2 separate regions of the Homo sapiens genome follow, and region 2 is linked to region 1. Evidence: fine-mapped expression QTL. A gene starts in region 1. The other region holds a variant in brackets. All regions are shown on one strand. Distances are between the middles of the regions. Region 1 holds the start of ITGB3 (integrin subunit beta 3). Region 2 overlaps ITGB3 (integrin subunit beta 3).

Region 1 (5,250 bases):
CCCCAATCACAAGATTAATCTGTGAACAGATCGCCTAAGGATTTTTTTTTAATTTTTAGTAGAGATTAGGTCTCACTATGTTGCCCAAGCTGGTCTCGAACTCCTGGGCTCAAGCAATCCTTCTACCTCCACTTCCCAAAGTGCTGGGATTACAGGCGTGAGCCACCGTGCCTGACCAGATATCTTAAAGGATCTTTTAATGCAAACTTACGTATGTCAATGCAGTGGAATCCAATACACTCCAAAGTGAATTTAGAAGACTGTGAATGTGAAAATTTTTTAATGACAGCAAAAATTGTCGTAAGTGCATGGAAGCAAGCATCTCATCCTGGACAGGACAAGGATACCCTTTTTTTAATTATGTATTTATTTATTTATTTATTTATTTATTTTTACTGAGTTGCCCTGGTGGATTTCTCCATTCCCGGCATCAATAGCCAGCAGCATCTGACCCAAGGCTCCACATGTCCCAGGGCAGAATGCTGGAGATTCTTATTTCTGTGTCATAGTCATCAGACTGCTCACTGCACGCTAACACTATCAGCTGATCTGTTTTAGTCCCAGTCACATAGGAAATGCAGCAATAACCACTGCAATATTCCTCTACATATCAACTGTAATCCCTCCTTCAAGATACCCTTGGCCGGGTGCGGTGGCTCACGCCTGTAATCCCAGCACTTTGGGAGGCCAAGGCAGGCTGATCACGGGGTCAAGAGATCGAGATCATCCTGGCCAACATGGGGAAATCCCGTCTCTACTAAAAATACAAAAATTAGTAGGGCGTGGTGGTGCGTGCCTGTAATCCCAGCTACTCGGGAGGCTGAGGCAGGAGAATCCCTTGAACCCGGGAAGCGGAGGTTGCAGTGAGCTGAAATCGCGCCACTGCACTCTAGCCTGGCGACAGCGAGAGTCCATCTCAAAACAAACAAACAAACAAAAAAAGATATCCTTGCCCTGTCCAGAATGAGTTATACGTCTATACATACACAGAAGAGTCTTGACGGGAATCACTAAAGTATTTTCGAATAGTTTATCTTTGAAGTGAATTTATCAACAAATCTTCCCTTTTTAAAATAAATCCTGGCCAGGTGCGGTGGCTCACGCCTGTATTCCCAGCACTTTGGGAGGCTGAGGTGGGCGGATCACTTGAGGCCAGGAGCTCCAGACCAGCCTGGCCAACATGGTGAAACCGCGTCTCTACTAAAAATACAAAAATTAGCCGGCCGTGGTGGCAGGCGCCTGTAATCCCAGCTACTCGGGAGGCTGAGCCAGAAGAATCGCTTAAACCCAGGAGGCAGAAGTTGCAGTGAGCCGAGAACCCACCACTGCACTCCAGCCTGGGCGACAGAGCAAGACTCCGTCTCAAAAATAAATAAATAAATAAATAAATAATAAAATAAAATAACAAATCCCTTCTGCAGGGTGTAGATTGTTTTACGAGTACTACAGTTTTTATTAAAAATACTTACATGCACTCTTGTGTCATCCTCTGAGGCAGAGGCGGCCCCAGCAGACCAGGAGCCAGGGTTTCTCTCCAGCCCAGGCAAAATCACCAAGGACTCAGAGAGGACCACGGGCAGCAACCCCGGGCTGTGCCCGCTCCATCCCTCCACCTGTGTCCCCAGTACCAAAGAGGCCGAATGCCAATTGCCCTGACGGCTGACGGTGTGCGCAGCAGCCAGAGACAAAGCCAAGGATCCCACCGGCCCAAGGGAGCCTTTTCATGGCTCCCCGAATACACTAGAGATTTTTCGGGTGCAGGGTCTGCCCTGGGAGCAGAGGCACCGCTGCCACCTGGGGACACTGGAGGAGGCAAAGCCCTCATCCTGCTCCAAAACAACCCCGCAGGAAGCCAAGTTGAAGGTAAAAAAAAGAAAGAAAGAAAGAAAAAAGGAAAAGAAAAAACCTTCTGGAGAAAGCGTAACAGGAGAAATTGGAAATGTGGGGAAACTGGCAAACCCGCGCGCGCGCACGCTCTCACCCAGGAAGCTACAGCGGCATCCCTCTGCCAAGGCGCGGGAACAACCCCCGGAAGCCCCACCTCGCCTTGGCTCCTGGGCCAGTCGTCCTTGGCCCGACCAGGACCACCCGCGACGCGCGCAGCCCCGGGTGAGCGCGGGGCTCAGAGATGCGCCCACCGCACCGTGCGCGCCGCGGCGGCCGGGAAGGCGCTCAGCCTGGCTGATGGCTTCGGCGTCTCGGAGGACCCGCTCCCAGGCACCAGGCACCTCTCAGCCCCGCCACCGCCGGGCCAGGAAGGTCCCCAGCTCCCGGCTCCGACCGCGCCAGCCAGGACACGCGCATTCCCAGCGCAGACGCGCGGGACCAGCCCTCCGCGTTTGCCGGCTCCAAGTCCGCAACTTGACCGGGGCGCAGATCCTGGGGCAGCTGCGACGCTGCCGAGCCGGAGCCTCACTCACCTCCTACGCCAACGCCCGCCAGCGCCCCCAGCGCCAGCACAGTCGCCCAGAGCGGCCGGGGCCGCGGCCGCGCTCGCATCTCGTCCGCCTCCCGCGGCGCTCCGCCCGCCCCACAGTGGGCGCCGCCGCCCGCGGCCGCTTTTCCCGCAGCGGGAGGGGAGGGGAGGGGACGCGGTGGGTGGGACGCAACGGGGCGGGCCGCGGACTCGCGCTTCCTCCCCTCCGGCTTCTCTAGATCCCCTCGCGCTTCTCTAGACCCTGCGCCTGAGAGGGAGCGGTGGGAAACTATTGCTCCTCTCTCGCCGCCTCCCTCGCCTCGCCCACGAGGACCCGCCTGCCAGCCGGGTCGTCAGCGCATCCTGGTCCCGGGGGTCCGCGACTGGGCACTTGGTGTGCTTAGAAAGGCCAGGAGCCTGTGGCCCCTCTCCGGACCCTTCCAGTCCCGCCTCCTGGGAGACCCTGTTTCGCTGGATTCTTGGGACACATTCACCCACTACCTCGAGTTTCATTCATTCACACTTTAATTCATTTGACTGGCAAACATCTGCTGAATGCCTTCTCTGAACCGGTTCAGTCCTTTATTATTCACTAATTTTTTTCTTGCCTTAGTTTGGTTTTCCGGTAGACTACCTACCTGTTGAGGGCAAGACCACATCCCAAGCTTGCGTAAGCAGTGATAGGTCCATGAAGAGCCTCGCCCTACAAACACTTGCTTGCACCTAGCCAGTGTCTGAAAACGTTTCAGAACACAGCATATTGCCTCCAAATTCACACTCACAGGCTTTGGGACTTTATCTATTTTCCTCAAAGGCCTCCTGCCTGACTCCCCCAAACTGTGGCCCCTTATCTCCCACCCCAATCTTTCTTTGAGTCCCTGGGTCTTCCCCAGACTTAAAACCTCTGGAAGCTCAGAGAGGCAAAATACTATGGCTATGAGCAAGAGGGCACCAGGAAGTAGCTGGTAGTGCAGCCTGCCTCAATGGGTAGTCCTGATGGTGATAAAAACAAGGCCAGAGGCATCAGTTCCCCTTTAGGGCTTTCAGAGTGGCCCTGGGCTTCCCTACGCAGCGTGCCCACCCTCTTCTGAGACACACAAGATGCCAGACAACTGGCCCTGACCCATCTCTCCAGCCCATCTCCCACCCTAGTCCAAGAAGATACTTGTCATTCCCCAATGCTCCATGCCTTCCTATCTGACTGATTTTCCTTCCTTTTTCCACTTGGAAAATTCCACTTATCTTTCAAAACATCTCAGATGCCATCTTTTTCCATGTAATTTTTTTCTGACAATCCTCCACCTCCTGCCCCACCCTCCCAAACACTAGGACCTTAATAGTAACACACATCAGCTGAAGCGTCACTAGCAATTTGCAAGGGGAAAAGCCAGCTCTGCAAAGGGTACTTGGGCCCTCTGACCTGGGTTTTCAGGCTGAAGCTCCATCTACCTCCCCTGGCTGCAGAGGGCCTCTAGGCCAGAAGCATTTTAACAGCAGTGTCAATGCCCTGGAGCAAAGTTCAGGTCACATGGCCTGGTTACATCTCTGCCTAAGTATTTAGTTATCTGCTCCATTCCCATATATATAAAACCAATCTCCAGCCACTTAGGTGTCTCCTTAGCCTATCCCTGCTGTCAGCAACCACTTGGGGTGGGCACTGGCCTCAGCAAGTATGCTAAGTCCACAACCCTAGCCCAAGCCCTAGCAAACATGACATAATTGTGCAAGTGAGTCCATCCTGCACTCCCAGCCCCAGGGAAGGCAAAGGAGCTAGTCCATTCACATTTAGTATAGTAATTGATGGTTGTGTTTACATTTACTATCTTGTTATTCGTTCTATCTTTTTGGCTGGTTTCTCTGTTTCTCTTTTTCTGCTTTCTTTTGGGATAATTTTTTTTTCTCTACTGGCTTCCTAGCTACACCTCGTTTGCATGTGTGTGTGTGTGTGTGTGTGTGTGTGTGTGTGTTTGCTCTAGGTATTACAATATTCCTCCTTAACTTATCATACAGTAGCCTATGTTGAATTAATATTGAACAATTCTATGTAAATTGTAAGAACCTGTAAACTAAAAATAACATTATAAGCCCCCCCACAACTGTCTGAACTAACCCTTCCTCTCAGCCAAGGGCATTCCAAAGTTAATCTGAAAAACTAGTTCAGACCATGATGTGAAGCAGGTTTGGGGAAGGTGGAGGGGGGGTGGTGGTTGAATATGCCTCACAGCTGACCAGCATTAGCATCAACACAAAGACCTTAAGGCTGATAGAATAGACTCTCTAAGTCTGATAAGAAACATTAACAGTCTATTCTGTCTGAAGCCTCTGGCTTCATCTGCATGATAAAAGTTTGGTCTCCACAACCCTTTATCCTAACTCAGACATTCCTTTCTGTTGGTTCTAGGTCTTTAGATAATAACACTTACAACCAATTGCCAATGAAAAAATCTTTGAATCCGTCTCTAACCTGGAAGTCCCTGTGTCAGATGTCCTGCCTTTCTGGACTGAACCAATGTTCAATGTACATGTATTGATTGATGTCTTTTGTCTCCCTAAAATGTATAAAACTGAGCTGTAGCCTGACCACCTTGGGCACGTGTCTTCAGGACTTCCTGAGGCTATGTCATGGGCATGTGCTTAACCTTGGCCAAATAAACTTCTAAATTGATTGAGACTTGTCTCTTCAAGTACATTAAAGATGGTCTGCTGTTTGCTGTCTCCATCATCTCTGGTGAGAAGTCTGCCATCCTTTATATTCTTGTTTCTCTTTCTTCTCCTCCTGGATTTTTTTCCCTAACTTTTTATTTTGAAATCATTAATACTTACAGAAGAGTTAC
Region 2 (5,482 bases), 55 kb before region 1:
CTATGCTCTCCTTCTTTGCCATCACATAAATTTACAAATATAATGCAAGCATGTTTATATACATGTTCTTTTAAGTTAAGAAAACCTCATCATGAGAAAAATAAAATAAAATTGCACTGTGGCCTCTCAGATTAAAGACTGAGTTAAAATGAGGTTGTCCAACCCATAGAAGAACAGGCCACACGTGCTGATACAACTGACCCATCATTCCATCCTGGCACTTATTCCCAGCCAACTCATGGGAATAATTCCTTCACAAGGCAGCCAAGAGGTAGAAGGTAAATACAATCAGCCCCATGGATGGATACAGCACACCAAGGCACAGGGCCAGGTATGTGGAGGTGCTATGGATGAGGGACAGGAGGCCGGAAGCATAGGGCCAGACCTCTGGCTCTACAATAGCACTCTCTCCCTTTGAGGAAAAGCATTTGGTCATGAGAGACATCCCCAGCTCATAGCAAATGTCTACAGCAGTGAGGGTGTGGAATTAGGAGGTAAAGAGATGGTGCTGGCCTAAGGGTGACACACTTCTTCTAAACAAACCTCCAGAGTAGAGCTGCCAATAAGGCAAATCTGAAGGGTTGTGATTATGAACTGGGAGATGCTGGTACATCCCCCAGGCCATGAATGACCCCTGAGTGGCCCAGACATCCTCACTCCCAACAGGTCAAAGAATTAGCTTGCAAGGACTTCCCTTGCGAGAGAACCATAGCTGGGTTGAGGGGATGGCAAAAGGCACAGGCAGCTCTAATAGTTCAGCTCTCCCTGACTCCTCCTTCGGCCTGAGGGAGGGGAAAGGAGGCAGAGGTACAGATGACCCGGGCTGCCAAGCCCAGCAGTTCCTACCATAGCTGCTGAGAGTCAGGCCTGAGAACCATAAATTTATGAACTCAGGGTAGAGCCAAGGCTTGGTGTCCCTTCCTCTGGAATGAGAGGCCTCAGCCCTGCCCTTCTCTTCAGGGACAATGGCCTGATGAGGAAAGCTGGCTTCTCACTGAGGTAATGAAGAACACCTGCTCAGCTCCATAGTCACCCTCAAGCTAAGCAGGAAGAATCCCTGCAGGAGGCATTCTGGGACAAAGGCTAAGGAGCTCAGCTTATCAGGACACATCACAATTTTAAATTACACACTCCCACACACAACACACACACATAAACACACAGACCCCCACATACACACACACAGACCCACACTTCCACATACTGACATTCTCCCAACCTACCCCACTCTGAGCCCCAAATCCCTCCCCACAAATACTGTCCTCTGTAAACATGATGGCAGGGACTCCTGCAATCGTGGCACAGGCTGATAATGATCTGAGGATGACTGCTTATCATTAAGTGCCCCGGTACGTGATATTGGTGAAGGTAGACGTGGCCTCTTTATACAGTGGGTTGTTGGCCTGTGGAGGAAACAGAATAGCATCTTACAGTGACTTCCTTAAGTCCTTCCCTACCCTGAATGTTTAAAATTCATCTCAGAAGTTTTCCCAAGGCACCGTTCTCTGGAATACATCATCAATGAAACAGAATAATGTTCATTTTGCTCACACTTTAGTTCTTGGCATGGGAATTGATAGGAAATAACAGGAGGAGATGAGGTAGAATGCCATCCTGCCACCGTTTCTTTTTTTTTTTTTTTTTTTCAGACAGGGTCTCATTTTGTTGCCCAGGCTGGAGTGCAGTGGCACAATCTCGGCTTACTGAAACCTCCACCTCCCCTGACTCAAGACATCCTCCCACCTCAGCCTCCCAAGTAGCTGGGACTACAGGCACACACCACCATGTCTGGCTAATTTTTGCATTTTTTTGTAGAGATGGGGTTTCTTCATGTTGCCCAGGCTGGTCTCAAACTCCTGAGCTCAAGCGATCCACCTGCCTCAGCCTCCCAAAGTGCTGGAATTACAGGCATGAGCCACCACACCTGTTCCCTGCCACTATTTCTAAGGAGCTATATTCAGCCTATCACTCTTCAGTGATTCCACAGCATTCGGGGATAGAACCTCTCCTATTTCACCCCTGTGTCCCCGTCTCTTTTGCCCTTCTCCTATTTTCCATTCCCTGTGACAGTGATAGGAGATGTGGACAAGGGACAGAAATGTATCAGGTGCAATTCAGAACACAGAGGAAAGCTTTTGCTCAAATAATTATTAATTTGTTTTCATCTAATCTGGCCAAGCACTAACCATGGCCAGGCATGGTGGTTTATGCCTATAATCCCAGCACTTTTAGGGGCCAAGGTAGGAAGATCACTTGAGCCCAGGAGTTCTAGACCAGCCTGGGTAACAGAGTGAGACCCTGTCTCTACAAGGGAAAAAAATACAAAAATTAGCTGGCTCGGTGATGTGTGCCTGTAGTCCTGGCTACTTGGGAGGGTGAGGTGGGAGGATCACTTGAGCCCAGGAGATGGAGGCTGCATTGAGCCATGATGGCACCACTGCACTCCAGCATGGGTGACAGAGCGAGACCCTGTCTCAAAAAAAGAAGGAAGGAGGGAAGGGAAGGGAAAGAAAAGGAGAGGAGGGGAGGAAGGGAAGGGGAGGGGAGGAAGCGTAAAAGGAAGGGGAGGGGAGGAGAGGGGAGGGGAGGGGAGGGAATGGGAGAGGAGGGGAGAGAAA[G/C]AGAAAGCACTATCCACAAACTGTCATGTTATCAGGAAAAAGTAAGACCCTCACTAGGTTTCCCAAACTATTTTCCAACAGAAAGTAACAAATCCTATAATGGTAGCTTCAAGAAACACATTCTTAGCCAGGCGCAGTGGCTCACGCCTGGAATCCTAGCACTTTGGGAGGCCGAGGCGGGTGATCACGAGGTCAGGAGTTCGAGACCAGCCTGGCCAACATGGTGAAACCCCGTCGCTACTAAAAATACAAAAAATAGCTGGGCACAGTGGCTGGCGCCTGTAATCCAGTTACTTGGGAGGCTGAGGCAGGAGAATCACTTGAACCTGAGAGGCCAAGGTTGCAGTGAGCCAAGATCGCTACACTCAAGCCTGGGTGACAGAGCAAGACTCTGTCTCCAAAAAAAAAGAGAAAGAAACACATTCCTGTGGGCCTCATAGGTACAGGATGTTCCACACTGTTCTAACAGAAACATCTCAGTTTCTTGGGACCCTTGAGTATAAAGCTCTGGGGTCAACATCAAATGGGAACAAACTTGCAGCCTAACTCTGGACATTTGGGGAGTCAAATAGCCATTTGGAGGGTCGAGGAAAAAAGTTGAAATGTGAAAGAAGAGCCAAAAGAGAATAGAGTAAGATTAAGTATATAGAAAGTTCTCAGTAAATGCTTATTTAATTGGAATAAATCAGGATAAAAGAGTAGAGTCTGATTTGGAAGTAACCTTTTATTTTATTTTATTATTATTATTATTATTATTATTATTTTTGAGACCGAGTCCTGCTCTGTCACCCAGAGCAGGGTGCAATCTCAGCTCACTACAACCTCTACCTACTGGGTTCAAGCAATCCTCCTGCTTCAGCCTCCCGAATAGCTGGGATTACAGGCATGCACCACCACACCCGGCTAATTTTTATATTATTAATAGAGACGGGGTTTCACCATGTTGCCCAGGCTGGTCTCGAACTCTTGAGCTCAAGTGATCTGCCCACCTTGGCCTCTCAAAGTGCTGGGATTACAGGCACGCGCCACCAGGCCCAGCCTGGAAGTAACCATTTATTTGAGGAGAAAGAAGAGAATGAGATGGAATGACATCCTGCCACTATTTCTAAGAGGCTGAAGGAAGCTGAAGGACAAGGGGATAGTGAGACCATCTCTCCCAGTTTCCAGAACAGAGGATAATGGAAAGACGATGGTACTGGCTGAACATGACCACCCAAAGCATCTGCTGCTTCCACTTAAGAGTCTCAGACCAATGACTTTAGAAAACGCCCAGCCCCGTCTCTTACTGTGTCCCATTTTGCTCTGGCGCGTTCTTCCTCAAATTTAGCGAATTCTTTTCGGTCGTGGATGGTGATGAGGAGTTTCCAGATGAGCAGGGCGGCAAGGCCAATGAGCAGAATGGCCCCCATCACTGAGAGCAGGACCACCAGGATGTCAGGGCCCTTGGGACACTCTGTGAGGAAGAAGCACAGAGCAGGGCGGTTGTGAATGAAGCAGGAGTCACTTGAACTGGCTATGAAAAAGGTGTTCTTGACAAAGTAACTAAGGTCCTTGAAGGAAATAGGACAGTTTTCAAAAATTAATTTTTTTAAGGAGACAATCATTAGGACAGCAATAATCTGCACTGAGTGGCTCAAATCAGAAGTCTAGACCTGGTAACCCCTAGACAGAACCCAGCCACACCTTTGTGTGGGGGTTCACCCAAGTGTTTATTTTAAAAATTAAACACAAAGAAGAGAACACCAGACACTGGGACCTACTTGAGGGTGGAGACGGGGAGGAGGTGGGGATCGAAAAACTACCTATGAGTCACTATGCTTATTACCTGGGTGATGAAATAATAGGTACACCAGACCCCCATGACTCACAGTTTATCTACGGAACAAACCCACACATGTACCCCTAAAGCAAAAATAAAAGTTTTTTAAAAAATTAAAAATAAAAAGCCGAGTGTGGTGGCTCACACCTGTAATCCCAGCACTTTGGGAGGCCAAGGTGGGCAGAGCACCTGAGGTCAGGAGTTTGAGACCAGCCTGGCCAACATGGTGAAACCCCATCTCTACTAAAACTACAAAAATTAGCCTAGCATGGTGGCGAGCACCTGTAATCCCAGCTACTTGGGAGGCTGAAGCACAGAATCACTTGAACCTGGGAGGTAGAGGTTGCAGTGAACCGAGATCACACCATTACACTCCAGCCTGGGTAACAGAGCAAAACTCCATCTCAAAATAAATAAATAAATAAATAAATGAATAAGAAATAAAAAATTGACTTTATTGGCAATATTGAATAATCAGGAGATTCTCCCCCTAAAATTTCATATTAGTCTCTTTAAAAAGAAAATCCAGGCCAGGCCCAGTGGCTCATGCCTATAATGCCAGCACTTGGGAGGCCGAGGCAGGAGGACAGCTTGAGTCCAGAAGTTCAAGACCAGCCTGGGCAACATAGTGAGGCTCTGCCTCTACAAAATTGTCTTTTTTAATTAGCCAGGCATTGTGGCATATGCCTGTAGTCCCAGCTACTCAGGATGCTGAGGTGGGAGGATCGTTTGAGCCTGGGAGGTCAAGGTCATAGTGAGCCATGATCGTGCCACTGCTCTCCAGCCTGGATGACAGAGGGAGAGACTATCTCAAAAGAAAGAAAGAGAGAAATACAGAAAGAGAGAGATTCTTATATTCCTGCAGAGCAGCAGTTAGCTAGAGCTGAGGAGGAGCTGCTCCTTTTAGTTGGAACTCATGTTTTCTAGTTTACCAGAATCCCCACCACTCTCCCTTCTCTCTCCTAGAGGAAGGCAGTGTGACTTGTTGGTGTGTCTGCGCTCCTGTGGATGTTACAGCCAGACTCCCTGGGTTTGAATCCTGACT

What was found. PIP is the estimated chance that this variant, and not a neighbour inherited with it, causes the effect.
Region 2: its variant is the best candidate, but not a certain one, in a credible set for the expression of ITGB3 in whole blood (INTERVAL, PIP 0.60).

The regions. Positions count from the first base shown.
Region 1 is chr17:47,251,111-47,256,360 of GRCh38, reverse strand. ITGB3 (integrin subunit beta 3) reads right to left here and starts at 2,534. Exons shown (of 15, transcript NM_000212.3): 1 at 2,421-2,534. The coding sequence starts at 2,499. RefSeq lists a silencer at 2,480-2,739.
Region 2 is chr17:47,306,060-47,311,541 of GRCh38, reverse strand. It overlaps ITGB3 (integrin subunit beta 3), which reads right to left. Exons shown (of 15, transcript NM_000212.3): 14 at 3,905-4,071; 15 at 1-1,403. The coding sequence ends at 1,338. All of the region lies in intron 2 of EFCAB13-DT (EFCAB13 divergent transcript), which reads left to right. Among named protein-coding and RNA genes, the nearest start is that of EFCAB13-DT, 15 kb to the left of the region's middle. The variant G/C (reference allele first, on the strand shown) is at 2,619.